Regions from separate parts of the Homo sapiens genome. Here region 1 is linked to region 2. A link means that fine-mapping ties the variant in region 2 to the expression of a gene that starts in the linked region. Tissue or cell type: whole blood. Region 2 holds a variant in brackets; the other region holds the start of a gene. All regions are shown on one strand. Distances are between the middles of the regions.

What was found.
Region 1: it holds the start of TLR3, and the variant in region 2 is fine-mapped to the expression of TLR3 in whole blood (TOPMed, PIP above 0.99).

Annotation. Positions count from the first base shown.
Region 1 is chr4:186,058,746-186,076,149 of GRCh38, reverse strand. TLR3 (toll like receptor 3) reads right to left here and starts at 6,994. Exons shown (of 5, transcript NM_003265.3): 1 at 6,902-6,994.
Region 2 is chr4:186,141,512-186,157,236 of GRCh38, reverse strand. It overlaps FAM149A (family with sequence similarity 149 member A), which reads right to left. Exons shown (of 14, transcript NM_001395294.1): 2 at 7,954-8,064; 3 at 7,533-7,671; 4 at 5,192-5,334; 5 at 3,467-3,592; 6 at 2,599-2,769; 7 at 1,047-1,237. Among named protein-coding and RNA genes, the nearest start is that of FLJ38576, 42 kb to the left of the region's middle. RefSeq lists a silencer at 7,104-7,299 and enhancers at 7,318-8,517, 12,484-12,984, 12,985-13,485. The variant C/G (reference allele first, on the strand shown) is at 7,109.

The sequences.
Region 1 (17,404 bases), 82 kb after region 2:
ATGGAATCTGGCTCTGTCACCAGGCTGGAGTGCAATGGTGCAATCTCGGCTCACTGCAACCTTCACCTTCTGGGTTCAAGTGATTCTCCTGCCTCAGCCTCCCGAGTAGCTGGGATTACAGGCACCCGCCACCACACCTGGCTAATTTTTATATTTTTAGTAGAGACGAGGTTTCACCATGTTGGCCAGGATGGTCTCGATCTCTTGACTTCATGATCTGCCCACTTCAGCCTCCCAAAGTGCTGGGATTACAGGCGTGAGCCACCGTGCCCAGCCAGTTAATTTTTATTTTATTTTAAATAAATAAATACATTTTTCTTCACATTTCTTCCTTTCTTACATTTCCTAAAACTGTCAGCTATAACATTGCTTGACATTGTCAAGATGTGAAATGTTAGCATTTTACCCTGAAACTATGATTACATATGAGGTCCTTGGCCTACATTAATTCAGCAAATCTAAAGTCAGTAAATATTATTTACAATTTTAAAAATTATTTGTATTTATTTATTTATTTTTAGAGACAGGGTCTCACTCTGTCACCCAGGCTGGAGTACAGTGGTACTATCATGGCTCACTGCAGCTTCCAACTCTCGGGCTCAAGGGTTCCTTCCACCTCAGCCTCCCAAGTAGCTGGGACTACAGGCATGTACCACACCCGGCTAATTTTTTATTATTTTTTAAATTTTATAGAGAGATAGGGTCTTGCTATGTTGCCCAGGCTGGTCTCAAACTTTTGACATCAAGTGATCCTCCAGCCTTGGCCTCCTAAAATGCTGGGATTACAGGCATGAGCCAATGTGCCCAGCCTCAATCACAATTTTACAATCATATAAATAAATAGTCACTGCAGATCATAATGGAACTGAAAAATTCTTATCACCTACTAATCTAGCCGTCATAATATCATGGTGCAATGCATTCCTCACATGTTTGTAGTGATGCTGGTGTAAACAAACCTACTGCACTACTAGTTATATAAAATATAGCACACATAATTATTTACAGTACCTAATAGTTGATAATGATAATAAATGAATGTTACTGATTTATGTATTTACTATACTATTCTTTTTATCATAATTTTAGAGTGTACTCCTTCTACTAATTTTTTTTTAAGTTAACTGTAAAACAGCCTCAGGCAGGTCCTTCAAGAGGGATTCCAGAAGAAGGCACTGTTGTCATAAGAGATGACAGGTCCGTGCGTGTTGTGGCCCCTAAAGAGCTTCCAGTGGGACACGACGTGGTGGAAGGCAGTGACATTAATGATCCTGACTCTGAGCAGGCCTAGGCTAATGTGTGTGTTTGTGTCTTCGTTTTTAACAAAAACGTTTAAAAAGTTAAAAAAAAAGAAGAAAATTAAAAATAGAAAAAAGCTTATAAAATAAGAATACAAAGAAAATATTTTTGTATAGGTGTACAATGTGCTTGTTTTAAACCAAGCATTATTACACGAGTCAAAAAGTTTTGAAAAATTAAAACTCTTATAAAGTAAAACAGTTATAATAAGTTAATTATTACTGAAGAAAGTAAAATTTTTAAATAGGTTTAGTATAACCTAAGTGTGCAGTGTTCATAAAGTCTGCAGTGGTGCACAGTCATGTCCGAGGCCTCCACATCCACTTCCCTTCTCACTCACAGACTCACCCAGAGCCACTCCCAGTACTGCAAGCTCCACTCGTGGTAAGTGCCCTATGGAAGTGCCATTTGTAACCTTTTGTACCACATTTTCACTTACCTTTTCTATGTTTAGATACACAAGTACTTCCCATTGTGTTACAATTGCCTCCAGTATTCAGTGCAGTCACACGCCGGCTGTCTGGTTTTGCAGGCTGGGCGCCACAGGCTGTACTACCTAGTTCTGTGTAAGCACTCCCTGTGACGTTCCCACAAGGATGAAGTCCCCTCACGATGCATTTCTCAGAACATATCCCCATGATTAAGTGCCACATGACTGTGTTCTATTTCTTTGGGGTAAATAACTAGGATTGGAATGCCTGGGCCATTTGGTGAGGCCATTTGGTTTTACAGGAAACTGCCAGATCCTTTGGGAAAGTGTTGCACCACCAACTTTCCTGACAACATTTGGTACCTATTTTTATTATTATTTTTAATCATTCTGCTGAACATATAGTGATAGCTAATTATGGTTTTCATTTGCATTTCCCTGCCGACTAACGATATTTAACAATTTTCATGTGCTTATTGTTCATTTATCTTCCCTTATATGTTCAAATATTTTGCTCATCTATTAGATTGTTTCCTGTTTATTATTGTGTTGTAGGAATTTTTTATGTATCTGAGTGTCAGTCCTTCGTCAGATTCCTATTTTGTAAATATTTATTCCCAGTGTGTGAGTTGCCTATTTATTTTCTTACTGATGTCTTCTTAATTATGATGAAATCTAGTTTATCATCTTCTCTTTTATTTTTATCATTTCTGTGTCTCCTCTAAGAAATTTTCCTACTCCCATTACTTAGATACTCTCCTCTAAAAAGCTTTATGGTGTTAGCTTCTATGTGAAGGTGTGTGACCTCTCCTAAGTTAATTGTTGTGTATGCATGAAGTAGGAGTCATGGTTTTTTGTGTGTATATCCAGTCAGTCAGATCTTGTTTTTTGTTTTTTTTTTGAGATGGAGTCTCACTCTGTCACCCAGGCTGGAGTGCAGTGGTGCCATCTTGGCTCACTGCAGTCTCCACCTCCTGGGTTCAAGTGATTCTCCTGCCTCAGGCTCCCGAGTAGCTGGGACTACAGGCACGCGCCACCATGCCTGGCTAATTTTTATATTTGTAGTAGAGACAGGGTTTCACCATGTTGGCCAGGCTGGTCTTGAACTCCTGACCTCAGGTAATCCATCCACCTCGGCCTCCCAAAGTGCTGGGATTATAGGGGTGAGCCACCACGCCTGGTCCAGTCAGACCATTTTTTAAAGAGACTTCTTTCCCCCACCGGATTGTTCTGTGCTTTCCTTAGAAACCGAGTAAATGTTTTAAGCGAGGGTCTATTTCTGGGCTGTCTACTCTCTTCCACTGAAATATTTGTTAGTTCTTAGGCCAATACCACATTGTTCGGATTACTTTAGCTTTACAACAAGTCTTGAAGTTCAGTGAGCGAAACCTCCCATCTTGCTCTTCTTCTAGATTGCCTTTTCCGTTGCTATGGTTGATGGAAATTATCCAATATTGTGTATTATTTATTATTAATTATTGCTTCTCACTAGAATGTGAAGCTATAATAGTAGAGGACATAGTTCTTATTCCATACGGTGTTGTCTGTGCCTAGAACAAGACCTGGCACTTTGTTGGCTCTGAAGAAATAAATATATGTTGAATACATAGCCGATATGGTTTGCCTCTGCGTCTCCACCCACACCACACGTTGAATTGTAATTCCCAGTGTTGGAGGTGGGGGCTGGTGGGAGGTGACTGGCTCATGGGGCAGAGTTCTCACAGATGGTTCAGCACCACCCCCTCGGTGCTGTTCTCCCGATAGTGAGTGAGTGAATTCTTATGAGATTCGGTCGTTTAAAAGTGTGTGGTGGTTGGGCGCAGTGGCTCACGCCTGTAACCCCAGCACTTGGGAGGCCAAGGTGGGCAGATCACCTGAGGTCAGGAGTTTGAGACCAGCCTGGCCAACATGGTGTAACCGTGTCTCTACTAAATACAAAAATTAGCTGGGTGTGGTGGTGGGTGCCTGTAATCCCAGCTACTGGGAAGGCCGAGGCAGGAGAATCGCTTGAACTAGGGAAGCGGAGGCTGCAGTGAGCCGAGATCCCACCACATGCACTCCAGCCTGGGTGACAAAGTGAGACTTCGCCCCCACTCCCCCCAAAATAAATAATAAAAAAATAAAAGTGTGTGGCACCTTCCCCTTCTCTCTTCTTCCTGCTCCGGCTATGTGAAGGTGCCAGCTCTGGCTTTGCCTTCTGTGGTGGGTGAAAGCTCCTTGAGGCTCCTCCAGAAGCAGAGGCTGCTATGCTGCCTGCACCACTTGCAGAACCATCAGCCAATTGAACCTCTTTCTTTATAAATGACCAGTCTCAGGTATTTCTGTAGAGCAATGTGAGAATGCACTCATACAATAGCTTTCCATGGGCATTTAGTCAGCTCAGGAAAGCCACTCAACTCCATACATTGTCACACTTTATTTTGGTGGGATGTGTACCCAGTGTGATACTCTGTGGTGTGATCAACAACCAAATTTCAGATATTTTAAAAAATCAAATACACCCACAAGGTATGGAGATGAAGCAGTGGTAATGATATCTAAATAGATATTCCACAAGATCTAAAAGTCATGACATGAAAATTATTCCAGGTAAGTGTCAGGTAATAAAATCACCTTAGGTGACTAATCCTAGGAAAACAGAACTAATGTGAGTATATAGAATTGTTCTAATATACTTAAAAATAGCGATTTTACTAATATTCTAATTTAGTTCTCAGAAACAGAAAAAACAACAAAAAAAACTGGCTTCCATAAACTAATATTCCCATCTCATGGCCTTTACAACTCTGGCACTAATCATTGTAAAGCTGTGCACATTCTTTATATCCACAGGCCATGAGGAATGCCACAGCTAGGCCAGCAAGGATGCATTTGCTGACTTGCCCAGGCACGTGAAGGATGCAGGGCTGGCAATGATACCTCTCAAATGCTGGGGACCAGCTCCCCACCTGCCCCCTCTCTGAGAGTGTCCCAAACCTCTCTTCCAGTTCCTTCAGAACTTCCTATCTCTATTTACCAACTCATAGGTAAGGTCCCTACAATACATTCTCCTTGCTTAGGTGAGATGTACCCCTCTGGTAGGGCTCCTGCTATAGGTCAGAATTGCTGAGAAGGACTAATCCATTACAAAGCATATCCCTGAATGACTTAAGGACTTGCCCCATCTGAAGACATTTCATCAGTGGGCAAAACTCACCAAATGCTAGGCAGGAGGAGTGAAAGAGGAACAAACTTGGAGAGACTCCTATGAAATTTCAGAATTGCAACCATGCACACAAAAATCCTAAAACCTTCATTTCCAAAGAAAAGAGATCTTGATTAATAAAAAACTTTTCATCAGTAACATGAACCACTGGAAAACAATAGAGATAAGCTTTCCAAACATTTAGAGAAAATTATTTTGAATTTAAAATTTCATATCCAGGCAAAGCATAGTGGCTCATCCCCACAATCCCGGCACTTTAGAAGGTGTAGGCAGAAGGAGATCAGGAGCTCAACACCAGCCTGGGCAACATAGTGAGACCCCGTATCTACAAAAATATTTTAGAAAGTAGCCAAGTGTGGTGGCACAAGCCTGTAGTTCCAGCTACTTGGGAGGCTGAGGCAGGAGGATCGCTTGAGCCCAGGAGGTTAAGGCTGCAATGAATCATGATCACACCACTGCACTCCAGCCTGGGCAACAGAGCAAGACCTTACCTCTAAAAAACAAGAAAATTACCTTTGACCAGGCCAAGAAAATTACCTGTGGCTCATGCCTGTAATCCCATCACTTTAGGAAGCTGAGGCTGGAGGATCCCTTGAGCCTAGGAGTTTGGGACCAGCCTGGGCAACACAGGGAAACCTCATCTCCACCAAAATTTTTTTTTAAATTAGCTGGCCATAGTGGTTCACACCTGTGGTCCCAGCTACTCGTGACACTGAGGTGTGAGAATTGCTTGAGCCAGGGAGGTCAAGGCTGCAGTGAGCCACGATCATGCCACTGTACTTCAGCCTGGGCAACACAGCGAGACCTTGTCTCTAAATCGATAAATGAAATAAAATGAAATAAAATAAAATAAAATAAGATAGGGAAATTTCACATCCATCTGAATAACTAAATAAAAAGGTATAAGTATTTTGAGATATGCAAAAATTCAGTAAGTTTATAGCCATACGATCTGTATGAAAAGGTTATTCTAGGACATGCTTCAGTAAAACAAGCAAAAATGCAGTTAAAGGATGAAATGAGAGTGAAGAAAACGTTGCTGTTGAATGAGATCTAGCAGAAATAAAGAAAATGAAAAAAAATTAAAAAGAGACTCACTCAGCCTTAGAATTTTGGAAATATTTTGTGAGGGCACATGGAATTCACATTCTTTGTCCAAGTGAGAGACAATATTGCCTGATGGTTAGGACATGGGGTCTGGAGGCAGACTACCTGGAGTTAACCACTATCCATAGTTTGATTTGTAAACTTTGCAACCTTTGTAGTAGGTTCATACACAGGCACGCCCATATGAAGACACATACCAGCACGTAATCATCTGTAAACCTGGGAATCAACTTGCTGAAGCCAACTCCATTTTTACCCGAGTACCCCACAATTGCCGATACCAGTTTCTGATCTTCCCATACACCTTAACAACTTTCCACTTCTCCACTTCTTCCATTATCCTTCATTAGGTGAAAGAAAGCCATTTACTTACTCCTAGGCATACCTGAATGTTCTCTCCTATCTAAGACATTGTCATACAATGCCAGCTCCTGTCTCCCCTCCAGCCAATAAAACTAACAAAAGGGGATACGCTCTTTTAACCTCTTGGAGTTTTGTTTCTTTAAGGCAAAGATGTGATTTGCTAAAAAGACTGTTGCAAAATGATTTCCATAGCTTCCCTAATGTGTTTTTTCCAGGTACAGAATGCTACAGAGAAAAAAATTAAATACTGCATAAATACATTATCACATTAACTAGATATTGGTGCTATTACTTGTGTTCTGAGTTATACCCTTCTCCCATGCCCATATCATATCCCTTTTCTTCCACTTTCCTTCCTGAATAATTCTGACTAGATTTCAAGCACCAGATCAAAGAAAGACCAAAGAAGGCTAAAACCACATGCATTCTGCTAGCAAACTCTACTCAGCAAGAGAGACCCTGCCCAGTAAGAACGTGAAATGAACACCTTCACTTACTTGGATGACTGCTAGCCTTTCCTTTTTTCTTTAGTCCAAATCCAGACATTTCATCAGGGAAGTGTGTGGCAAATAGACGGCACTCTCGAAAGTGAAAGTAAAGCTTGAAAAAAAATGCTTTTATGTTTGGTGCATTCCAAGAAGGGCAAAGGGAGAAAACAAAAACAATCTCTGACAACCTCAGAGAGGCGTTTCAAACCGCCTCTGAAAAACACCTAGTTTTTATTTTATTTTAACTTTTTTTAAGCTGAGATCCTTGGATTTCATTGAAAGGGTCACAGATTTAGCAACAGCTAAAGTTGAAAGTGGGGACCTCACCATTTGATGTGGGCGGGTCTGGACCTCTGCAAGTTAAGGAATAACAGTGAATCCCTCAATTTTCTGCTAGACTCATGCGAAGCTGTCAGAATTGAGTAGTGTATGGTCACAGGGACAGAAAAAAAAATCCCTAATCAAAGCTGAAGTACTTTCCCTTCTTTCGTCTGGCTTTTATCTCTTTGCAACACTGTAAAATAACACCGGCAGAAATTAACCTCTTGATCCAGGAAGAAACTGAGTTTCACAGCAGAGAAAGAGCCAAACATGGCAAAGCTGAGAGCCAGTCCCACTCCTGCTGATCCACTTTTCCACGGTCAGACGCGTTAGGGAACAGATCAGTATGCCCAGAAAAGTTCAGATTAACTAAGAATTTCGTTCTTAATTTGCTTTAATGACTCCAACTAGTTAAGTAAATGTACTTGTTAAGAAATGAACTCACTTTTTTTCATTACAGATGTGCTATGATCTATTATAACTATATTGTTATATAGTGAAATATCACAATTGGAAGGAACTATAGACCACCTAATCTAACTCCCTTGTTTGAGAAATTAGGAAAACGAAACCTAGGGAGGTGAGTGGTTTGCCTAAGAACATGCCACAAGCCACCATATGCTTCAATCACACAAGTCATAAAACAACTGGACGGCTGGGACATGGCATTAGCTTGAACTCATTGCAGAGCTGATGGCAAGAAACAAGCGTGCATCATGGTGCAAAGTGCCCTCTTGTGGGCTCCAGCTTCAGCTAGACCGCTTTATAGTTACTGGGCTCAGGGCTACATGTCTCTGATTTTCATTTGTGACATCTGTAACATAACACCATAAGCAAACAGATGTCCTGAGTACGTGACTGTCCCTCACATCTATCCATTGGGATGTCCAGGAAAACTTCACTAATATTCAAAAGATTTCTTCTCTGTGAGCGCCTTGAAGGCAGGGTGAGGTTTATTCTTTGCATTATAGCTCCCCAGCAACCCTCTGAGGTAGACTGTTTCTTTGGCCTTCAATGAAAGAGACTCGTCCTCAGAATTCAAACCCTTGTGTGGCCTTCTCCCACGCTGACTCTAGGCTTGGCCATTTGACTAGCTTTGACCAGTGGGATATTAGCAAGCATGCAACAAGGTCTCATTGCCAAACACGATTACCCAGGCTTGAGAAGCAAGCAAATAAATGATTGTTGTTTTAAATTTAAAAAAATTGGAATGGTGTCATATGCATTATTAGCGAAATAAAACACATCATCTCAACAATCCTTCATACCTATCCCTTATGCCTTATGACTCCTTATACAGATTAAATTTCCCACGACTTTGGTTGACTAATGAATGGCTCTCGATAAATAAATTTTATTGATGGTCTCCTGATGCAGTAGTTTGGGCTTAATACCAGTTCATATTCAGATATTATTAGTCCTTAATTCTTGCTAGTTTCTAAATACAACACAGATTGTTTTCTCTCTACTGTACATTTCTTAACTATGTGCATTAACTTATTTAGCTATGATGGTGATTGGAGCAATAGTGAAAAACCTCATTTTTCCCCTTTTTAAAAGAATTAAGGCTGGGAGCAGTGGATCATGCCTGTAATCCCAACACTTTAGGAGATTGCTTGAGCCTAGGAGTTCAAGACCAACCTGGGCAACGTGGTAAAACTCCATCTCTACAAAAATTACAAAAATTAGCTGGGCATGTTGGTGCATGCCTATAGTCTCAGCTACTTGGGAGGCTGAGGTGGGAGGATCACTTGAGTCCAGGCAAATTCAAGTTTGCATTGAGTCATGAGTGCGCCACTGCACTCCAGCCTGGGTAACAGAGGGAGACCCTGTCTCAAAAAAAGAGAGAGAGAGAATTAAAAAAAAATGTATGCCCATAAATGTAAAATAACAAATTTAGTAAACACTGATATTTCACAGCATTACAGATCAGCCAATCTCAGAATAATGGGAAGCTGTATATTCCCAGCAAAACAGAGATCTACAGAATTCTAGAAGCCAAAGTCCCTTAAATTTATTCACATTCTAAAAACTCTAAGTTCCCTTCTTCCATTTGAGGGGCCTCTTTAATGAGAGTTTAGTAAGATAATATACACAAAATTTCTGGAAGAATCACTTGACAAAACACAGCAAGTTACAGAGACCGGAGTGACAAGCCAGATATAATTAGCAAATTACCACTCACATGCTGAACTACACAGACACTGTTCTTCTCTGCCCGTTCCTAATAACAATTCTTAATAAAACAGCCGTTTTTATTTTTTTTAATCTTTTTTTTCCTGAGACAGAGTCTTGCTCTGTCACCCAGGCTGTAATTCAGTGGCGCGATCTCAGCTCACTGCAAGCTCCGCCTACCGGGTTCAAGTAATTCTCCTGCCTCAGCCTCCAGAGTAGCTAGCTGGGACTACAGGCACGTGCCACGACGCCCGGCTAATTTTTTGTATTTTTGGTAGAGACGAGGTTTCACCGTGTTAGCCAGGATGGTCTCGATCTCCTTACCTCGTGATCCACCCACCTTGGCCTCCCAAAGTGCTGTGATTACAGGCGTGAGCCACTGCGCCCGGCCAATTACAACCATTTTACCTATAGACAAAGATAGTGTATAGTCTGTAGGCAGTCTAGTCAATTCATTATAAGATTTATAAGGGAAAGTTTATCATTTTCATTATCATCATTATCAGCACCTACAATACTGAGGCTTTACGGAACCATCTTTACAATCTCCCGAATGAATGAATTTAGACATGAGGATTGTGTCACCGCAGTTTCTAACCACAAATATAGAGAATTGAAATTGTGGGGCAAACAGAAGACTCTCCTCTCAATGCATGTATGTGAAAAGGCAGATTAGTACTGAACAATACAATAATTACACTCTGTGAGGGCCAAATATAGAGAGAACTAATTGCTCAGTAATACTTAACATTTGTGCCAGCAATGAATATCCAATTATGAGTGAGCTGTTGGGTATTTGAGGCAATATCATGCATAGGTTTAATTTAAACGGGCTCTTAGAGTCTCAGAAGTAAACCTTTATTCATGGTGTTAAAGTACATTAAAATGGAGACCAGGCCAGAAGAATCCATGAACATACCAAACCAGCAAGGGCTCATAAGCGACCTCGACCTTGCTTGATCTGCAAACATAAGTGACATACGCAAACATAATAACTTGAGCACTATATCTTGTAAATGCCTATATTAAAGAAAACGTAAACACAACCAATCAGAAGCAGCCAACAAACTTATATAACTAAGGACTTTCCAATGAGATAGACCAAATAAGGTAGCTGTATAACTGTAAACAGTCAAGCGCTGTCTTTGCTCTACTTCTGTCTCTGTCCTGAAAAAGCCTTCTCTTGTGTTCCCTTGGTGGAGCTCCCCAACCACTTCTGGTTCATGAATCATTGCTGGTTCAGAAGCACTGTAAAACTGTATTGTGCCTCAGTTTACTTTTTTATTTGTATAGATTTATGGGAGTACTAGTGCCATTTTGTTCCATGCGTAGATTGCATAGTGATGGAGTCAGGGTCTTTAGGGTATTCATCACCCAAATAACATATATTGTGCCATTAGTATCAGTTTACTTTTTAAGAATAGGAACAAGGAGATTGGACCAACCAATGTTCTCTGGGTTGGCAGGAAGCCAAAGTAAGGCTAGACCTTTTCATCATTCAAACTTCTCATGGGTATGTAATGCGATGAATATATTATGAACCTAAACAAATGGTTAAATTCCCTGAGAGCACCAGATAGACAGTCATTGTGAACTGCACTCAACTGGTCCCTTCACAGCCCCCATTCAGAAAGGACATGGTTCTGATCTGTATTGGCTGAAATTCTAGGAAGCATTTCTTTTCTTTCTGAATCCTTTCTCTAAAGTGAAGATACAGTTCCTCTTACCAGTGTCACTTCTATTTCTGCTCACTGAGCTTTCGCTAGTTTGAACTAGGCTCAACCAAAGACCCCAGCAACAACTTTAAGAGAGAAAATAACAAATGTCCCTCTCCCTACTCTCGCTCATGTCCACTGAGCAGTATTGAAGTTGAATTTCCCCTCTGAAAAAGAAACCAATGTTTGCCACAGAGAGCTTCTGGTTTAATCTAAACTTTTTTTTTTTTTTTTTTTTTTTTTTTGAGGTGGAGTCTCACTCTGTCTCTCAGGCTGGAGTGCACTGGCACGATCTCAGCTCACTGCAACCTCTGCCTTCCCGGTTCAAACAATTCCTGCCTCAGCCTCCTGAGTAGCTGGCACTACAGGTCCCTGCCACCACACCTGGCCAATTTTTGTATTTTTAGTAGAAACGGGGTTTCACCATGTTAGCCAAGGTGGTCTCGATCTCCTGATCTTGTGATCCACTCACCTCGGCCTCTCAAAGTGCTGGGATTACAGGCGTGAGCCACCGCGCCCAGCCTAACCTAAACTTTTATTTATTTATTGTATTTTTTGTAATTTTACAAGGTAGTTGAAAGTGATACTTTTTTTTTAATGTCATGAGATATGCACTGTTTTATTCCTTCATTTTAAGCCACTCTATCGAGGTATGATCGATATACAAAAAGCTGTGAATATTTAATATATATAACTTGATGAGCTTGAAGACAAGTATACTTCTGTGAAACCATCACCACAATCCATACCATAAACATATCCATCACTTCCAAAAGTTTCCCTTTATTCTATTCATTTATTATTATTTTTGTGATATATCACAACATGAAATTACCTTTTTGGCAAATTTTTAAATATATAATACAGCATTGTTAACTATAGGCACTAAACTGTACAGTAGATCTCTAGGGCTTACTCATATTGTATAAGCTGGACTTGGTGCCCTTTGACTAATACCTCTCTGTTTATGCCTCCTCCCAGCCCCTGACAGCCACCATGTCACTCCCTCCTTCTATGAGTTTGACTATTCCAGATTCATCATATAAATGATATCATGTAGCATCCTTCTGTCCTTCTGCATCTGGCTTATTTCACTCAGCGTAACATTCTCTGGGTTCATCCATGTCGTCACAAATGGCAGAACTTCCTTTTGTAAGGTAGAATAATATTCCATTGTATGTGTATGCCATATTTTCTTTATCCATTCATCCATCAATGGGCATATAGGTTGCTTCCATGTTTTAGCTATTGTGAAGGCAATAGCATTGAAAAGAATAAAATACTTAAGAAAAAACTTAAAGAAGTGAAAGACTTGAACACTGAAAACTATAAAACATTGATGGAAGACATTAAAACAGACACAAGTAAATGTAAAGACATCCTGTGTTCATGGATTAGAAGAATTAATATTATTAAAATGTCCATACTACTCAAAGTGGCCTACACATTCAAACATAATCTCTATCAAAATCTCAATGGCATTTTTATAGAAATAGAAAATTTTCCTAAAATGTATTTGAAACCACAAAAGACCCCAAATAGCCAAAGCAATCTTGAGCAAGAACAAAGCTGAAGGCATAAAATGTCCTGATTTCAAAGTATGTGACAAGGCTACAGTAATCGAGACAGTATGGTACTGGCTTAAAAACAGACTAATGGAACAGACTAGAGAGCCCATAAATAAACCCATGCATAGATGGTCAAGTTCTTTGACAGGGCTGCCAAGAACACACAACAGAGGACAGGATAGTCTCTCCAGTAAATGGTGTTGGAAAGCTCAGTATCCATATGCAAAAGAATAAAATTGAACCCTGTCTTACACCATACACAAAAAATCCACTCAAATTAGTTTAAATACCTAAACATGAGATGTGAAACTGTAAAACTCTTAGAAGAAACACAGAGGAAAAAGCTTCTTGACATTGGCCTTGGCCAGTGATTTTTTTGGATATGACACCAAAAACCCACGCAACACAAGCAAAAATAGAAAAGTGGTAACATCTTGTTGTTTCTTATAAATCTATGAAATGGATTTAGGTGAATGGGGTCTCTCCTTTATTAACAATGTTATGACACGGCTGTTCAGTCCCTAGGCCCTGAATTCAATATTTATTTATTAAAATCAAAAGTAAAATTATAGATACAACTTCACTATCATCCTCCATTTAAAATATCCTAATTAAATCCACTAGGCTTCTAATAAATGGAAACACAAATGTCTGACAAAACTTCTAAGTGATCACAGAAGGAAGTCTGAAGTATCAAAAGCAAGCCATAACTTACCATAATCCGATTGAATTGGTTATTGGAGAGTTTATGATCATGCAAATTGACCTCCATTTTATAATGCAAATTTTAAATCAACAGGAGAAATTAAAAGAAAGCCCAGAGTTGGAAGGGATGCTGTTGCTTTTGAACATGCCTCTTGCTTTTCACCTAAGAGTAACCTTTATCTGTATCATGGGATGATCTTATAATAAGAATATGAGAGCTGGTCCCTAAAAAGTAGGAAGTAAAAGTGGAAAGAACTGGGGAGAGGGAAGCCTTACTATCATAAATATTTGTTGATAAAATAGGTAAATCCAAAACTCAAAAAGAAACCTCTAATATAGTTTACAGCATGTATAGAATGCCTAGTCTTATTCTTTATCTAGAAATAGGACTGTTTAAGAGGTGAGTGTATACTTTAAAGTCATCAAAAAAAAGTAGCATTTCTTTTTCTTTAAATTAGCTGTTTATGTCATTTACTTGATTTTTATATTTTTATTATGGATTTGTAAGAGGTTTTATGGACATTACCGAAATTAGCTTTGGTCTAAGTGTGTTGCTAATTTTGCTTGATCTATTGTTTGCTTTTGGTTTTTCAAAGTGATAGTCTTAACTAGTCAAAACTTCCTCAAAGGATTGACATCAGCAAAATGGCAGACTAGGAAGTTTCAATTCCTCATTTCCCCATGGAACTATCATAAAATGACCAGAAAATTGCTGAACAAATCTTAGAGTAGCTCTGGAAAACAAAGGTCTACAACAACCACGTAAATACCTAATAAAAAATTCACCTTAAAAATGTAGGAAATTGTATGGCATTTTTCGTTACCCCTGCCCCACTCCGTCCTTGGCTCAGCATGGTCATGTTCTAGAGGAGGCAGCAGCTCAGCTTCTGGTTATCTCTTTTTGCCTCTCTGCAAAAGCTGAGAGAGGTGGCTGTTTATTCAAGTATTTAAGTGCCAACAAAAAATCATAGGGTACACAAAGAAGCAGTAAAACATGGTCCAATCAAAGGAAAATGTAAATCTCCAGATAATATCCCTAGAAAGCATGTATATTGGACCTACTAGACAAAGACTTTAAAATAGCTGTCTTGAATATGCTCAAAGACCTAAAGAAAAACACAAAGAACCAAAGAAAATGAGGACTACAATGAACGGACAAAATAAGAATGTCAGCAGAGACCACAGCAGTGGCCCATGCCTATAATCCCAGCACTTTGGGAGGCCGAGGTGGGCTGATCACTTGAGGTCAGGACTTTGATACCAGCCTGGCCAAAATGGTGAAACCCTGTCTCTACTAAAAATACAAAAATTAGCTGGGCATAGTGGCACGCACCTGTAATCCCAGCTACTTGGGAGGCTGAGGTGGGAGAATCACTTGAACCTGGGAGGCAGAGGTTGCAGCGAGCCGAGATCGCACCGCTACACTCCAGCCTGGGTGACAGAGCAAAACTCTGTCTCAAAAAAAAAAAAAAGTCAGCAGAGAAGTTGAAATTATATATATATATATATTTTTATATATATATATATATTATGCAGCTGAAAAATACAACTGAATTGAAAAATTTACTAGAGGGATTTCAACTGCAGATTTCAGAAAGCAGAAGAAAGAATCAGTAAATTTAAAGGCAAGACAATTAAAATTATTGAGTCTGAGGAGCAAAACAGGAAAGAAAAAAAAGAATAAACAAAAGGGAATAGAGTCTCATGGCCTTATGAAACACTGGCAAGCAGGCCACTATAGGCATTAGGGGAGTTTCAGAAAAAGAAGAGACACAGAACGGGGCAAGGAGGTGGTGTGAAGAAGTATGGTCCCAAATTTCACAGATGTGATGAAATACACGAGTCTAAAAATCCAAGAAGCCCAATGAACTTTAGGTAAGATGAACCTAAAGAGACTCACACTGAGACACATTATAATCAAAATAAAAGTCTAAGACACACATAATCTTGAAAGCGGCAAGAGAGAAGTTACTCACAACATACAAAAGATCCTCAGTAAAATTATTGGTGGATTTGTTAGTAAAAACCTTTGAGGCCAGAATGCAGTGAGGTGATATATTTAAAGTGCTGAAAGAAAAAAAAAAATCTGTCAATCATGAATTCTATATCTGGCAAAACTGTCTTTCAAAAATGAAGGAGAAATTAAGACATTCCCAGATAAGGAAAAGTGGAGGGAGTTCATTATCACTAGATCTGCCCTACAAGACATGCTAAAGACTAGGGATCCTTTAGATTAAAATAAAATCATTCTAGATGGTAATTCAAAGCCATATAAAGACATAAAGATCTTCAGTAAGCTTAGGCACATGGTTAAAAAAGAAACGTTTTATTATAATTTTGGTTTGTAACTTCACTTTTTTCTTTTCTGGAGAATTTAAAAGATAAATGCATAAAAATAATTATAAATCTATGTTAGTTGAGTACATGTTGTATAAAGACGTACTCTGGACATAAATAGCATAAAGTCACAGGAGGTGGAGATATTTATAAGTCCACTTGTGTGCAATTAAAGTTAAATTGGTATCAATTCAAATTAAATTGGTATGCCTTTAAAATGTTGCATGCAATTCCCACGATAACCACAAAGAAACTGCTGATAATATAGCTAACCAGATAATTCTAACCAGAATAATTCTAACCAGAAAGGAAAAAGAGGCATTAAAACGGATTCTATTTTTTAAAAATGTATTATAAGAGTACTGTGAAGAACCATATGCCAACAAATTGGATAATGTCAGTGAAATGGCCAAATCCTTAGAAACACACAACCTACCAAGACCGAAACATGAAGCCATAGAAAATCTGAATAGACCTATAACTAGTAAGGAGTTTGAATCAGTAACCAAAGCATTCCAACAACAAGATCTCTGAACTAGATGGCTTACTGATGAATTCTACCACACGTTTGAAAAATTAGCACCAACCTTTGTCAAACCTTTCCAAAAAATGGGAGACAAAGGAACACTTCTAACTTATTTGATGAGGCCAGCATCACCCTACTACCAAAGCCAAAGTCACCACAAGAAAAGAAAATTATAGGCCAGTATCCCTTATAAATACCGATATAAATATCTTTAACAAAATGCTAGCAACATATTTAACAGACTATACATCATGACCAAGTGGGATTTATTCCCGGAATGCCTTGATGGTTCAACAAACAAAGATTAATCGAGGTAATATTCCACATTGACAGAATGAGAAAGAAAGCCACATGATCGGCCCAGCACGGTGGCTCACGCCTGTAATCCCAGCATTTTGAGAGGCCAACTCGGGTGGATCACCTGAGGTCAGGTGTTTGAGACCAGCCTGGCCAACATGGTGAAACCCCGTTTCTACTAAAAATACAAAAATTAGCCTGGTGTGTTGGTGGGTGCCTGTAGTCCCAGCTACTTGGGAGGCTGAGGCAGGAGAATTGCTTGAACCCGGGAGGTGGAGGTTGCAGTGAGCTGAGATCGTGCCACTGCACTCCAGCCTGGGCAACAGAGCAAGACTCTGCCTCAAAAAAAATGCTACCAATAATAATAATAATAAATAAAAACAAAAACACATGATCATCTCATATGATGCAGAAAAAGCATTTGCTCCTGTTAAAAACCCTTTTATGATACAAATACTCAACTCTTTTATATGATTTAAAGATTGTTTTGATGACAGGGCAAAAAACAATGACTCCCAGATAGGTGAAAAGCAGAATTATTTGTTACTTACAGTTCCAAATAGAGAAGGCTGCCAGGCAGGGCCACGCAGGGGATTGAGCCTAGGCCGGGTTAACGGCAACCTGGAGATGTGGGAAGCAGTGTGCGTATGGCAAGCTGGGTGGAGCTGGCTAGATTCTGTGGGTTTCCTGTGGGTTGGCTATTTGAATACTTTCAGAGGGCTCTGGGGGATAGGGGCTGTCCCTTGTGCTATGGTAACTGGCCCTAAGGTGATTCGGGTGGCTGTGTAGTGGCCTGCAGCGTGAGAGCCCTGTAAGGGAAGTGGTTCAGTTGTGGACTTAATCACCTCCTCGATGAGGGGAGCTGACC
Region 2 (15,725 bases):
CTGGTCATTAATGTCCATCACTGACATTTTTATGATTTGTTTTTGTTCAATGTTAAGTTTAGAGAATATTTTGTATGTAAGAGGATTAAAGCATGATTCAATTAGCAATGTTTACATTTTACATTACAGATAATGTCACGAACAATGAAAAACAAATATCTCATTATTAGAGAGTAGTTAGGTAAATTATTTTTACTATAACAAAAAACATGACTTCTAGCCTTGTTCTTGTGTATCTGTGTGTTTTCCAGACTGCATATGCACTGCTATTTTTGGGGGAGAGATGGTCTCGCTTTGTTGCCCAGGATGGAGTGCTCACTTTCAATACTGAATTCCTGAGCTCAAGGGGTCCTCCCATCTCAGCCTCCTGAGTAGCTGGGCCTACAGGCATGTGCCACCATGCCTGGCTAACTTTTTATTTGTATTTTTTGAAAAGACAGGGTGTTACTATGTTGCCCAAGCTGAGCTGGCCTTGAACCTCTGGGTTCAAGTAATTCTCCTGCCTTGGTCTCCCAAAGTTCTGAGTCACCATGCCTGCCCTGCATTCTTTTTTTTTGAGATGGAGTTTTACTCTTGTTGCCTAGGCTGGAGTGCAGTGGTGTGATCTCTGCTCACTGCAATCTCAATCTCCACCTCCTGGGTTCAAGCAATTCTCCTGCCTCAGCCTCCCGAGTAGCTGGGATTACAGGCACATACCACCACGCCCGGCTAATTTTTGTATTTTTAGTAGAGGTAGGCTTTCATCATGTTGGCCAGGCTGGTCTTGAACTCCTGACCTCAGGTGATCTACCTGCCTCGGCCTCCCAAAGTGCTGGGATTACAGGCGTGAGCCACCGCACCCAGCCAGCCCTGCATTATTTTTTATAACACAAAAAACAATAGCGTCCTTTTTGAAGGGACTAAAGAGCACTCATGAGTAAAGTCAGAACACCCACTTGTCTTCTCACTGGTCACGTTCTAGGTCTGGCCAAGCTGGGGAGCAGGAGCCCAGGGCCGAAGAACAGGGACTTTTTCTTTTCATTAAGCTAAATTCTGCATGTAAGTACCTGTGAGTGTAGTTTCCCAGTGTTTTCTAATCAGCTCTTCCAAAAGTTCTACCATATTTGTCCAGACGTGATCAAACACTTCTGCTGCCACGGCATCTTTGACACAGTCACGCGGGGAAACAGGAGGAAGTCCGAGTTTGCGCCATTTCCTACCGGGCTGAGCTGGTTTTTGTTCAAGACATTCATCATCACTAAGAATAAAAACCCACTCCAATTACTAAAAGATCAATGCTTAGAGTTAAAATAATTCTATCTACACACATTCACGTATGTACATGTATACATATATTAATAAACATTCTTTGTTAAACAGCATCGTTCTTTTTTAACATATATAATTTTTTTCCATTACACATGAATAAAAACAAGAAACCAACTCCTGGTTTCATTGATCTTTCTTTTTTTTTCTAGTCTCTTCATTTATTTCGGCTCTGAGCTTTGTTATTTCCTTCCTTCTACTAAGTTTGGGCTTAGTTTGTTCTTTTTCTCATTCCTTCAAGTATAAAGTTAGGTTGTTTATTTCAGATATGTCTTTTTTCTCAATGTAGGCATTTATTGCCATAGGCTTCCCTTTTAGAGCTGCTTCTACTGTACCCCATAAGTTTGGTTTTAATATGTTGTGTTTCCATTTTAATTTGTCTCATTATATTTTTTGATTTCCCTTTAGGTTTCTTCTTTGACCTACTGCCTGGTTGTTGAGGAGCAGGTTGTTTAGTTTACACATATTTGTGAGTTTTCTAGTTTTCTTCCTGTTATTGACTTTCAGTTTTGTACCACTGAGATCAGAAAAGATGCTTGATTTCAGTCTTCTCAAATGTGTTAAGACTTGTTTTATCAGTGTTACTTTTTAATGTGCCAATTTTCAATCACGGGGCAAAGTTTTATCATGTAATAGTTGTAGTTTTTGATTAAGAACAAAATACAAGGCTGGGCACAGTGGCTCACGCCTGTAATCCCAGCACTTTGGGAGGCCGAGGCAGAAGGATCACGAGGTCAGGAGATCGACACCATCCTGGCTAACACGGTGAAACCCCGTCTCTACTAAAAAAAAATTCAAAAAATTATCCGGGCGTGGTGGTGGGCGCCTGCAGTTCCAGCTACTCGGGAGGCTGAGGGAGGAGAATGGCGTGAACCCGGGAGGCGGAGTTTGCAGTCAGCCGAGCTCGCACGGCTGCACTCTAGCCTGGGCGACAGAGCGAGACTCCGTCTCAAAAAAAAAAAAAGAACAAAATACGAATTTAGTACAGAGGCAGGAACTCCCCTTAGGCCCTTTTGGGCAGCCAGGGCTGGGGAACCTGGAGCCCCCAGGACCAGGGCTGCGAGGAGCCTTGTCTGCTTTTACAAGGGCACTGAACACCCTCTTCGCTGCTCCCGCACGTGCACCGCTGGCTAGGAATCCAAAAGCTCTGGGGAGTACATTACTCTCAAAAGAACAGAAATCTTTTGGGTGAGTAAAAAATACACAAAACACTTAATGAGCATACGATAACAATAAATGTCAAATAAATTAATATTATTTTATGAGGTCAATGTCAAATAAGATTCTATTTACTCCTCTTTTCTGTCAAAAGCGAAATACTCCTCAATCTTTCCATCCACATGGTAAACCTCTTCTTCCAGGGATGAACGTGCCGTTAGGTCAGCAACCCCTGTGTCATCAGGGCCTGGCAGGGCAGAGGCTGAGAGTGCTGCTGGGACTATTTGAGAGCCAGAAATGCACAACCTATGGGAAAAAAACAGATTCTACATGGGAGTTTATAGAACACCAAGAACGCAATGCTTAAACGATCATGGCGGATCTTTCAATTATCTGTAAAGTACAGAATCCCCCCCTCCCAAAACGGTTGAATATTACATTGGACAAAACTCACGTCCTTAAAAACACTTTAATACAGGCATCATTAAACATTTTAAGGGCTTCTTAAAAGCCTAAATTATTCTATGAGTTTGTACCCTCTTTGGTTGCAGTGAAAGGACTGCATTGTGTCACGGCACACCAAATATGTGTGAATGGCATAGAGTCATCAAAATCTGCTAGTGAACAGAAACGACAGGACAGAGCTTCATTTCTCCTGCTGCCACCGCCTGGAGGCTTATAATCCATCACAGTGAGGCGGTTTCCATCCTGCACCCAGTCCACCTTTCACAGCGCCTTTGGAACAAACATGGAAGGTAACTACCATGTGTGTGCATGTGTGTTCCATATATATATTACACATCTCTCTATATACACACATATACACCTATCATCAATTCAGAATCAAAAGCTTCTTATAAAAATTGTTCTCTGTACCTGCCCTTCATCAGAATCTAAATTTCCAAAATGGGTGGAGCCAAGGCTTATAGATGAGATAAACATGAAAAAGTATAACTAAAATACAGCTAACAATACTTTTTGAGAGTCACTTATCTGAACATACTCTCTGATGTTGCTGCTGTGTCCGCAGGCACTGAGCGGGGGTCTGTGGACTGCGGAGGCAGGAGTGCTGCCCTGGAAATGCTGGACGCCTTTGTCAGTGGGCAGGATCAGCTGTCTTCCTAATACTCTGCGAGGTCAAAGAGAAGCTACTGACATTTTTGATCAGACAAAGGGAAAATGTTTGGAGATTTTAAAAGTAGGAGACAATGATTTTGAAGGCATGTGTATGATAAGATGTGTATGGGAACGTGGGAAGCATCACGCATCACAGAAGTGTGACTTTGAGAGTTTAGGCCAGACTGTTCTTCCACTGACTCAGTCTCAGGCAAGGTTCTCAGGCTAATTTCATTTGTTTGTCTTTCATTTGCAAAACAGGATAATAATGGTTACCTTGCAGGGCTGATGAATGGCTTAGAGATCATATATGACAGACTCAGGTGTCTAAGGCAACACTGGGCACAAAGAAGCCCTCCATACATATTAACTAATACACAGTTAAACACAAACATAACAAGAATACAAATATATAAATATGCACACTTGGCTTATGTACCTGACAATCTTTTCCCACCTTCCCTCCATTTCTATCAATGATGTAAGACAGCAGTGACAAGAATAAGTGTGAGCTCCCGAATTTCTGGTGAGTGATCATCCCCAGAAAAGTGAGTATCCACAACTAGTATCTAGTGGACATATCATACTCTTTAGGGCAGGTGGCTTATTAAGGGTTGAAAAGAAAAAAAAAAACAACCCTAGTTGGTCAAGATTTCTGTAAAAGTTACCTAGTGAATGTAACCAGGAAATCCAGCCACATTTACATGAGTGTTCTGATTCATTCTCCCCAGACAGAATCCACAGGAACTCAGGTAACTTTGATAAACTGTCCCCCAGTACGTTGGCTGAGTGACTGAAAGATAAGCTTGCCTTTGGCCGGGCGCGGTGGCTCATGCCTGTAATCCCAGCACTTTGGGAGGCTGAGGCGGGCGGATCACGAGTTCAGGAGATCAAGACCATCCTGGCTAACACGGTGAAACCCCGTCTCTACTAAAAATAAAAAAAATTAGCCGGGCGTGGTGGCAGGTGCCTGTAGTCCCAGCTACTCGGGAGGCTGAGGCAGGAGGATGGCGTGAACCAAGGAGGCTGAGATTGCAGTGAGCTGAGATCGCGCCACTGCACTCCAGCCTGGGCGACAGAGCAAGACTCCATCTCAAAAAAAAAAAAAAAAAAAAAAAGCAAAAAGAAAAGAAAAGCTTGCCTTCATACCCAATCCATATTCTCCATCTTTGATATGAAAAGTAACACATGCTCCTCCCTACATAAGGAATGGGTGAGATGGGAAGACCCATCTATCCAGCCGTTCAGCAAATCATCTCTGCCCACCCTCGCTGTGTTCTGTGATGAAGACAGACATGTGCTGCTCACACACAGTGAATGTGAAGGTAAGAGGTGGCCTCCACCATTCTTGCATTCGTATATGTGTCATGCCCTTCTCAGGATGGCCTGAATTTGCTTCTCACAAATTAAAAGGCGCTTGAGTACTGGAATGTCTCAGTATTTCCTCAGACGCCGTAAGAGGAAAGTGATCTCTCAGTGAAGGACTGCGCTCTGCATCCATATTCTGACTGGGCAGGCACTTTCACACCAAATGTACTGAATGTATCGAGGCAGGTCAGGGGTGGGTGCTTGGAAAACCCACCCCAGAGAACTTCCACCACCAAGGTCCCACCTCAAATGGAGGGATCTTCTTGTCCACTCCCCGCATTCGGCCAGCAGACTCTGGGTCTGAGGGTTCACTTTCCCTTCAAATAACATTTCCTCCACCTCCCAGAGTAACCGCTGCACTGACTGTGAACTGGCTTCGTCAAATTCCTAAACAGAAATGCACACTTGGTTACAACACTGCAAGTTACAGAACTGCGGGCTTCTGGATCAACGCTACTTATACATTTACTGTCACCCACTATGTAGGAGGGTGCATCACTTGGTAAAAAGATGGTGGCTTTGCAGTCAGACACACCTGTGCTCTAGCTGTTACCTTTCTGAGAAATGCCATCTCATTCTGAGCCTCGGATTCTTTTACTGTTAAATAGAGAAAACTTCTGCCACGGAAGTTATGAGACTCAAGAATTTGCATAGATAGAGGTATAGATGGACGTGTTCATACTGCCACAGACATCAGCGTAGACACACAGACACGTCCACATCTGTATGTCTGCAAACACAGGCAGCTCCTCACAGAGCTGTGCCTGACACACCTAAGCACACCTGCAAAATACAAGATTTTTTTTTCTTCTGGTGATACCACAGAAAAGAAAATTACTTTTGTAGAAAAGGCCATTAATCTCCTTAAATCAATGAACTGGAAAAAAAAATCCTTAGTTATCCTAAGAAGTGTGGTTATTAGGGTGAGGCCTGAGTATTAATGGAAGTTATACGAATTTCCCTGGTAATTCCATTAAACGTTGTACTAAAAGAATCCTAGAATTTGGACAGAGTAAAGCAGTGGTGCTCAGCCTTCTACCAAGGAAGGCGGGCTTGAGGGATGGTGGTGAGTGGGCGTAAGGGAGAGGAAGGAGGCAGCTGCCCCTAAGTAAGGGAGCTGCGTGCGTGAAAGGTCCTCCTAGCAGTGCTGAGCTGAGTCCCTTTCAGACCCCCTCGGTGCACCTGCCCTGCCGGCTCCCCTGAGAATCACAGCTGCACAGCTGCGGACAGAAGCGGATTCCCATGTGCAGTGGGAGTGGGGAACCACTTTTAAAGAAAGCAAAGAGGCTGGGCGCAGTGGCTCATGCCATGGGAGGCCCAGGCAGGCGGATCACAACGTCAGGAGTTCGAAACCAGCCTGGCCAACATGGTGAAACACCGTCTCTACTAAAAATACAAAAATTAACTGGGCATGGCGGTGCACACTTGTAATCCCAGCTACTCGGGAGGCTGAGACAGGAGTATTGCTTGAACCTGGTAGGCGGAGGTTGCAGTGAGCCGACATGGCACCACTGCACCTCAGCTTGAGTGACAGAGCAAGACTCTGTCTTAAAAAAAAAAAAGAGAGAAAAGGCCGGACGCGGTGGCTCACGCCTGTAATCCCAGCACTTTGGGAGGCCGAGACGGGCGGATCACGAGGTCAGGAGATCGAGACCATCCTGGCTAACACGGTGAAACCCCGTCTCTATTAAAAATACAAAAAATTAGCCGGGCGTGGTGGTGGGCGCCTGTGGTCCCAGCTACTCGGGAGGCTGAGGCAGGAGAATGGCGTGAACCCGGGAGGCGGAGCTTGCAGTGAGCCGAGATCGCGCCCCTGCACTCCAGCCTGGGCGACAGAGCGAGACTCCGTCTCAAAAAAAAAAAAAAAAAAAAAAAAGAGACAGAGAGAGAGAGAAAGCAAGCAAGCAAAAAACAACAACAACAACAACAAAACACCCAGCATAAACGAGGTAAAACAGAACACCCAAGGTGCTGCAGCCAGGTGGGCCTTAAAAAGGAGGGCTGTGTCCTGGGATCCACGGAGACCCTTGGAGGGAGGGGGAGGGAGGAGACTGGAGCCAGTGAGCTCCTGAGCAAGCTGGAGCAGTGGAGGCAGAGCTCGCCCAGCCAGAATCCCAGGCTCACACAGACAAAAGCAGTTCAGAGGCAACAGCGCCCCCAG[C/G]GGTAGGGGGTGAAGGTGAAATATCCGACTGGGAATACTGGCGGGGAGTTCTCTAATCACAGTGGCTGCCACAGCTTTTACTTTTCCAGCATTTCTTTCTTATTCAAGTCCTGAATTTCCGGCCATGGATACCATCCAAGAAGTCACAAGGAGCACACACCCGGAGAGCCGGCTGCAGGGTGGAAACAAGAAAACTGCGGGCAGCTAAGACGGGGCCAGAAGGTCACGAGGGAGTTCTGTTTTCCTCCACGGTTCGTGATCTATTATTTTCACATGTAACATGTACATGCTTTTACATGTATGTACATGTATGTATGCAATAGGTCATGCTTTTATAATTGGTAAAAATAATTTTGAATATAAGGAAGCAACTCTTCACTATAAACTGTAATTACAAGATTATCCAAAATATTCTGAGACATACGTCATCTCTCCAGGAATAAACGGAGCCCCTCTCCGTGGATGAGCCGGTGGTAGAGCTCTGTGTGGCCGACCCAGACCAAGAGGTGTGGGCTCCCGTGGGTGTATGGCTTCCGCTGGAGGAAAAGGATGACAAGGATTTGCTGCAGGAATGAACATGAGCAAAGAAATCACATTTGCTGGAAGGGCTTGGATGGCTAAGTGGCTTCACTTTTCTGAGCCTGCTTCCTCTTTCTTTCATTAAATATATTTATTAATTTCACAGTATACTAATTTTGAAATATTTTTACAGTGTGATGTTTACACTAGGTTAAAAATAAAACTGCATCTTACTTTTAGAAATTCATGGCCAGTCACTAACTTCCTTCCCACATTTGTTACGGGCATTTTGTGATTTTGTAATCTGAAGCAAGGTGAATTCTTACCAGGTATATTTATCAATGGCTTTCTGCACATTTCTTGTAAAATGCGTAGGTAAAGAATCTTTGCTCCTCACAGTAAAACCGTGCCTTCTACGTCCTTCTGACAGTCCTCTTCTGGAAATAAAATAAAACATGACGAGTCTCCCTAATGTAATAATATAGTTTTATTCATTAAGACTTTTAAAATTTCTCTTTTATACAAAGTTGCTCCTCTCGTTCTGCCACATCCCTCCAAACCCACCTGTGCATGAGCGCACACACACACACACACACACACACACACACACCCCATCCTGATGAAACTGAGACTTAGGATGTCATCATTTTTCTTTTTCTTAAAATCAAGGTTGCCATTAACCTATATGTACCTTTATGTGAACTGAAGACAACATCAACTTTTTGTGACTCAGCCAGAGAAGGAAAAGTTGCCCCAAACAGTTCACAGTATTTCAGGGATTTCAGGTCCCAGTTGTCCCTTGACCAGGGACAAGGGACTTACTTACAAAACCCAACCACTCCTCCAGTAAAAAAATCATTAATCCCATATTAATTAAGAAACATCAAATTCTTTAGACTCAGAAGCCACACAGACACCTAACTTGCTTTAATCTAGCATTGCTGTTTGTGGGTATACTGAGTTTTCAAGAGTTAGAAGATATTAAAATTTAATGAAGAACTAAAACAGAAGAAATATCTAGATGTTAAATAAACTATTAAGCCTAACTGGTGTAGCACAGTTCCTGTTAATCATTGAAATGTCCTTTCAATGAACCGCTTAAAACATTTACTTCCTCTAGTCAAAATATCTTCCTGATGTTTAATAATCAACAACTTCTGTTCTTCAATAGAAATCTTATTTTCCCTTACAAATAAAACATATATTAACATAAGATATGGTCATGAATCAGGAAAAACTTCAACTTTCAATATTTCTAGTTAGAACACCACTCTAAAATGCATTTTTAAAAAGTTTGCTTTTGCTTTCGATTATAAGGCTACCTAATTGATCTCAGCTCACTGCAACCTCCACCTCCTAGGTTCAAGTAATTCTCCTGCCTCAGCCTCCTGAGTAGCTGGGATTACAGGCGCCTGCCACCACGCCCAGCTAATTTTTGTATTTTTAGTAGAGACAGGGTTTCACCATGTTAGCCAGGCTGGTCTCGAACTCCTAACCTCAAGTGATCTACCCGCTTCGGCCTCCCAAAGTGCTGGGATTACAGGCATGAGCCACCACACCCAGCCAACAAAGAGAATTTTTAAAACAAAGTAATTACCATGTACAGATTGGCGAGAACATCTACCTTCCATAGATACGTCTCATGCAAGAGAGAATAATAGAATTATATGATTGTTTTTATTCTCTTTGTTGCTTAGGTATCTTACGGACAACCAGGTAACTCTGAGGATAAAGATGTTAAAGAAAGGGCCCCAGAGAAAAGAATAAAGGACACGCTTTATGCTGACAAACTGCTTTACCTTTAGCCCTCTTCAGTTGCTTTCAAGCCATTAATTATTTCTTGTTTACATGTGACTCAGTAACTTTTTAGGTAAACATACAAATACTAATGACATAAAATAACAACTAAAAGTTACATCAAATAGATTTGTTTTGAACACTAAGAAAAACATACTGGTATAGGAGTTAATATATGACTGAGAAATAATTTTAAAACTCAGCATGATGAATTAGCTAAAACATTGTTCTTTTGTGATACATATCTACAGAATAATAATGGGGGGTTCAAATTTGCTCTGCCACTGAGGCTTTAAGCAAGTTAACTTTTCCTCTCCTGAATTCAGTGTCCACATCTGTAGATAAAGTATATGAAGTGTCAGTCAGTGCTACATAAATCGGGTTTACCTGCTCACTGCTATTATTATTGTTATGTTATTATTATTACTTGACACAGGGTCTTGCTTTGCTCCACAGGCTAGAGTGCAGTGGCAGGATCACAGCTCACTGTAAGCTCGACCTCCAGGCCTCAAGTTATCCTCCCACCTTCAGCCTCTCTAGTAGCTGGGACTACAGGTGTCTACCACCATGCTTGGCTAACTTTTTAATGTTTTGTAGAGATGGGGTCTCACTATATTGCCCAAGCTGGTCTTGAACTCTTGGGCTCAAGTGATCCTCCTGCCTTGGCCTCCAAAACTGCTGGGACTATAGGCATGAGCCACCGCACTGTCCTCTCACTGCTATTATCATCATCACCTGCTACTCTACGAAGATGCTGTGTTCTTGTTTCTTTGGACCTCCCATAGCATTTTGTATTATATAGATCTTTTCACATTTTAACTTTTTGTTGTGACCTTGACACCTTATTCATCTTTTAAGCTAAGCACCTGAAATAACACTCGTCACACAAAAGATGCCCTCGGTTGAAAGACTCAAACGGCGAAGACGAAATTAGCAACTCAAATGCGGAACTCATTTTCACTACAGAATTACTCTGAATGTTTATGCCTGAAACATAGGATTACATCGTGACCTGACATGAAAATATTCCCCAGATTCAAGACACTATTGGATAACGTTTTACTCGTTAAAAAGTCACAGCTCTTCTTTGGGCAGCTGATATTCCCCCAAATGGTTTTCACCGCCAAACGGAGCATCTGCTCTGCTCAAGACGGTCTATCCTGCTTCTAGCTCCTCCTCCTGCTTTTGTGCAACTTTGAAGCCAAATTCAAAATGGGACGCATGCGAGTTTGTTTCAATGAATAATTTATTCCTCTAGGAAATTCACTCTTTTTCAGGGGAAAGGGTGGAAGCTCTTTTCAAATTAAGGAGAAAATTATTTACAAAACGGAGGAACTCATCTCTCTTCACATCACACCACATCCTTTCCAGGACCAGGCTTCCCACTGTCTTGGACGCAGAGCTGAGCCCAGGAGGTCTTGGGATGCAGGGCAGGGGGAAATGGGAAGTTGGGTAACAGTCACACCAATTATTACGAATTAGGTGCCTTAAAACTCCCCTACTCCATGCCATTTCTCCCTCTTTTTTCCTCTCTGACCTTCCCCTCTGTATCTCCTTTTAAGCAATTTCTTGAGCTTCAGAGTTCAGTGTAATAACATACAAACTTGACCACACAATTCACAAAAAAACGAGGTGAACAGGAATTTAAGTCCGTAACTCAATGATTGCCCAAGAGCACAAAGAAGATAGGGACAGAGTTTCTTCGAGGAACCAGGCCACTGACCTGCCTGTCTCTCCAGTGGCACAAGTTACTAACATCATGAATTAACAGCAGAGCCTACAAAATCCCTTTCTTGTCTTTTTCTTTTTTTTTTTCTCTTTCACATCTTGTTTTGGTTCTTTGGTTTCTCTGTTCTCTAACCAAGGATTGGTTACTGGTCCCTCATGCATAATGTTGAACCTCTTTAATCCCCTATAAACTATGGACTAGTTCTGTATCCTACACAGTCTAAGAAAGTGTACACAACTTACAGGATGCATCCCACAGGTATTTTAAAACTTGAATATGGTGGCATGTCCATGAAGCTTCTAAACATAGACATGCAAGTTCTATACTAGTTCCTGTCCATACTGTTTAAATAGAGCAAGGCTGTTGATTTGGGGACAGGTCTTCGTAGGGTGGACTGAAGTGCAGTCACTAAACTAGACTGCACTCATTTGTTGGCGCATGGAGGTTAAGGGTGAGTTCCAATCTCCATGACTCCATTCCAGCTGTCAGGAAAATCATCATCCAGAGTTACTGTTTTAGGTTGCTTCTTGACAGCCCACAAACCTCTGCCACACTGCTTTGTAGAAATTCTAATGTCAGTGACAGCAGCTTTCAAAATTTTCTATTCCTAGTTGACAGGACTGTCTGACATAAGCACTGTACTCTGAACGGGTTAAAATGCAGGCTGGTTTTCTGGATGGGGGGACACACAGGGGCACTCCAGGGTGGCCATGGGAAGCCGCTCCTCAGCACGGAACACTCACACCGCCCTGACCCAACACCAGCAAGTCCCAGGAGCGACCGCAGTGACGAAGGAGTCCCTTTGGCGGCGAACGCTTCCCCGCGTGAGCCATGCCCGGGGCCGGCCTGACGCTTCCCGAGTGCCTGCAGGGAAGCCCGGGCCAGACGCAGCCGGCCCGCGGGCGGAGAACACCGCGCACATCGCCTGCAGAGCGGCCAGAAGGCGAGCCCTGCTGCCGGATGAGACTCACCCGATTACGATCAGCCCCGGGCCTGTGCTCGCAGCCCCCGCGCCAGGCTCCGCGCTAGGCTCGGGCACCGTCAGGCAGAGGCACCGCGCGCGGGCCCCACGCAGACAGCCGGTCACGCGCCCCCGCGGCCCCGGGGCTGGGGCTCCCCACCCGCCCGCGCCCGCGCCCGCGCCCGCGCCCGCGCCCGCCGCGCGGCTGGCCCAGCTCAGGCGGCCCGGGCGCGCCCGGGGTCCGCGGGGCTCGCACGCCCCTTCCCTCTCCAGATCCTCCGCCCCGCCCGCGCCGGCGCCGCCTCCCCTCCTCCTCCCTGCGCTGCGCCCTCGCCCGCCAGCTAATCCCGGCTGCGCCCGCCCATCCCCGCTCCGGGCCCCGGCCCCGGCCCCGGCCCCGCGCCGACCTCCGGGAAAGCGCGCCTTCCCCGCTCCCTGCCGGGCCGGGTTTCCAACCCAGCGGCCACTCCTCCGCGCACGGCCCGGCCTCCCTACTCCTTCCCGGGTCTCTGGGGCCGGGGGCTGTGCATACTGGTGCTGGCTGCCCTTCTCTCTTCCAAATCGGATTTTAATTCACCAGAAGAAGGCAGAGAACCACAGGACCATCTCGCCTATCCCCGCCCCATCAAAGGGTGCGCACACCAGGCTGGGGTGGGGAGTGGACGAATGAGGTTTAAAAAATGAAGCCCCGGATCTGGTCAATGCGAGAACCATTACTCCATCAACAGGAACGCTAGATCTAAGCATGCATACTAAAGACGTGGACCCTTCCACGCCCGTCCTGCCCTACCGGCTCACACAAGCCGGTGCATCTCCTGCACACCCCGAGCATGCCTGCCGCTTGCGTTACCATGTGCTCGTTTCAGTTTTGGAGGCCCAGGATTATACCAGGAGCAGAGCAGCTGGACGCTCTCCTGTGAGCTGGTGAAACTGCCAAGCCGTCATTTTCACATGCTAAGGGAAGAAGGGGTGAGGTCGCGGAGGTGAACTACATTTTTGAGTCTCAGAGGGTGGGCACTGCACGAGGCATGCCTTTCCCACGACAGGGATTTTAGTAATGACAGTTAGTGCACTGGGTGCCGGTACAACACTCATCCCCGTCCTGCCGTAGCCAGTCTCTTTTGAGAGCTGAGGCCATCTAAGTTTCAACAGGTACAATTTCTCCTGCCAAGTATCCCGTATTTACAGAGGTAAACCATGTATTTCCGAGTTTTTACTAAAAAGCCCAGTTTATTTCTGATGCACCACCCTAGCACGGTGACAAGAAATCACTACCAATAACAAAAACAGTAGTCCAGCCAGGGTGGCTCACGCCTGTAATCCCAGCACTTTGGAAGGCTGAGGTGGGCGGATCACTTGAGATCAGGAGTTCAAGACCAGCCTGGCCAACATGGTGAAACCCCAGTCTCTACTAAAAATACAAAAATTAGCTGGGTGTGGTGGTGCGTGCCTGTAATTCCAGCTACTCAGGAGGCTGAGGCATGAGAATCACTTCAACCTGGGAGGCGGAGATCGCCCCACCCACTCCAGGCTGGGCGACAGAGGGAGACTCTGTCTCAAAAAAACAAACACAAACAAAACAGTAATCCATTGTTGAACTAAGAACACTGGAATCCTCCCCACTTTTATAAAAGTGGTAAGTGGTTATAAATTATAAAATTAATGAGATTTTAAATCCTGATACATGTATATGTGTATATGTGTGATGTGTGTGTATGTGTATACATATCTATCAGGAAAACTATGGTATCTTAAGCCCACACAGACTTGCTGATATTATTTATATTGCCAGGGGTGGGAGGATGGGCATGCCAGGGAAACAAAAGAAAGGAGTCTGGTGTGATGGCTCCCACCTGTAACCGCAGTGTTTTGAGAGGCCAAGATGGGAGGATCACTAGAGCCCAGGAGTTCAAGACCAGCCTGGGCAAGACAGCAAGACTCTTGTCTCAAAAAAAAAAAAAAAAAAAAAAAAAGTAAAAATCGAACACAAAGTCATTTAAGATCCAAACATATGCTAGCTGCTTTTACTTTTATATATATTATTTTACATATATTCTTACATATATTTAACACCCATAGTAGGTAGACACTATTATTACAATTTTGTTGATAAAAATACTGATGTCAGAGACCTTAAGTAACATGTTCGAGGTCACACAGCTAGGATGTATATGTGTGAATGTGTCCCAGATATCTATTACCCCATAACAAACCACCCCAAATGTAGATTAAATCAACAGTCATGTTGTTATGCTCATAATCCACAGAACTCAGGAATTGCGGCAGGTTGAGTGTTTCTTCTGCTCCCCGTGGGGTTGCTCAGTGGCATACAGGTGGAGGGTGGTCTGGTGTGGAGGCTCTAAGAAGGCTTCACTCATGTGTCTACACCATGCAGTCGGGGGTGGCTGGAAGTCTGGGCTCAGTTGAGCCTTCTCTCATGCAGCTTCAACACTTCTCTGAGTGGTCCCTCCAGTGAAGTCGTTGGAATTTCTACGTGGCAGCTTAGGGCTCCAAGAAAGCGAGGCAGAAGCCGTCAGCTCTATTCAAGGTGGCAACTGGCAGTGTCACCTCCACTGTACTCCATAATCAAAGCAGTCCCAGAATGAAAGAGATGGAAAATAGACCCCAGCTCTCAATGGGAAGAACCTACAGCCGTCTTTAATCCGCCATAACCGTCCTCTGGCCACAGGTCATTTACACATGCACGATACACTCAGCTCTTTCAAGATGCTCAGAAGTCTCATCATCTAAAGCATGTCCGCGTACAGATGAGGCTTCTGCTTGGGTATTTCCTTTACATCTGAAGACCTGCGAACTAGAGAGACAAGGCAACAGCCTTCTCCACACCCAACCGACAATGGTGAGACAGAGCCAGGACATCCCCAGTGGGCACCTGTCCAACAAGAGAGGTGGCGGAGCCAGGCAGCAGCCACTGCGGGTTCCAGCAGGCTCCTGCTGCCTTGCCTTGAGGAGGACTCACTTCTGCTTCCTGCCTTCTCCCCAGCCCTTAGCTCTGTCCTCTGGGCTGTTGCTTCTACCGAGACTTCCTCAGGGAAAAGAAATGGCCTAGGTTTGCAACTAAGTAGCCTCTCAGCCTGCTTTCCTCCAGGGAAGGCTGGGGAAGGGGGTCCAAAAGTCTGTGCCTCTTTTAGTTCAAGCCAGTGGCGCTTCCATCACTCTGCCAATACCTTGTGGGTTTCTTTGAATTTTATCAGAGTTCACCCCATCCATTAGTTACAAACCACACTGACCTGAGATGGGCCCTTGGTCCACCTTTGAGACTGCCGGGGGCCAATTCTCTTATGATTTTTTAAAGCCCTATTATCTTGGGGATCTATGAGACACCCCTAAATCTGACGTCTTGTTAAGCCAAACCTTTGATTTCACCTTTACCCCTGCCTAGGATTTGATCTTTGCACAGAGGCCATTTTTCAGTTTTGCCCAGAGAGACTGTGATGGTCAAAGTTTCACAAACCCAGCAAGTCTTGACTTCTATATTTCTTATGACTTCTGTTCAAAACCTGAACAGTTCCTTAATTCATTTGTCTCTTCTCTCAAATTTCAAAACCTAAAGCTATGCTGCTTGCTTAAAGATTAAAGTGATAAAATCT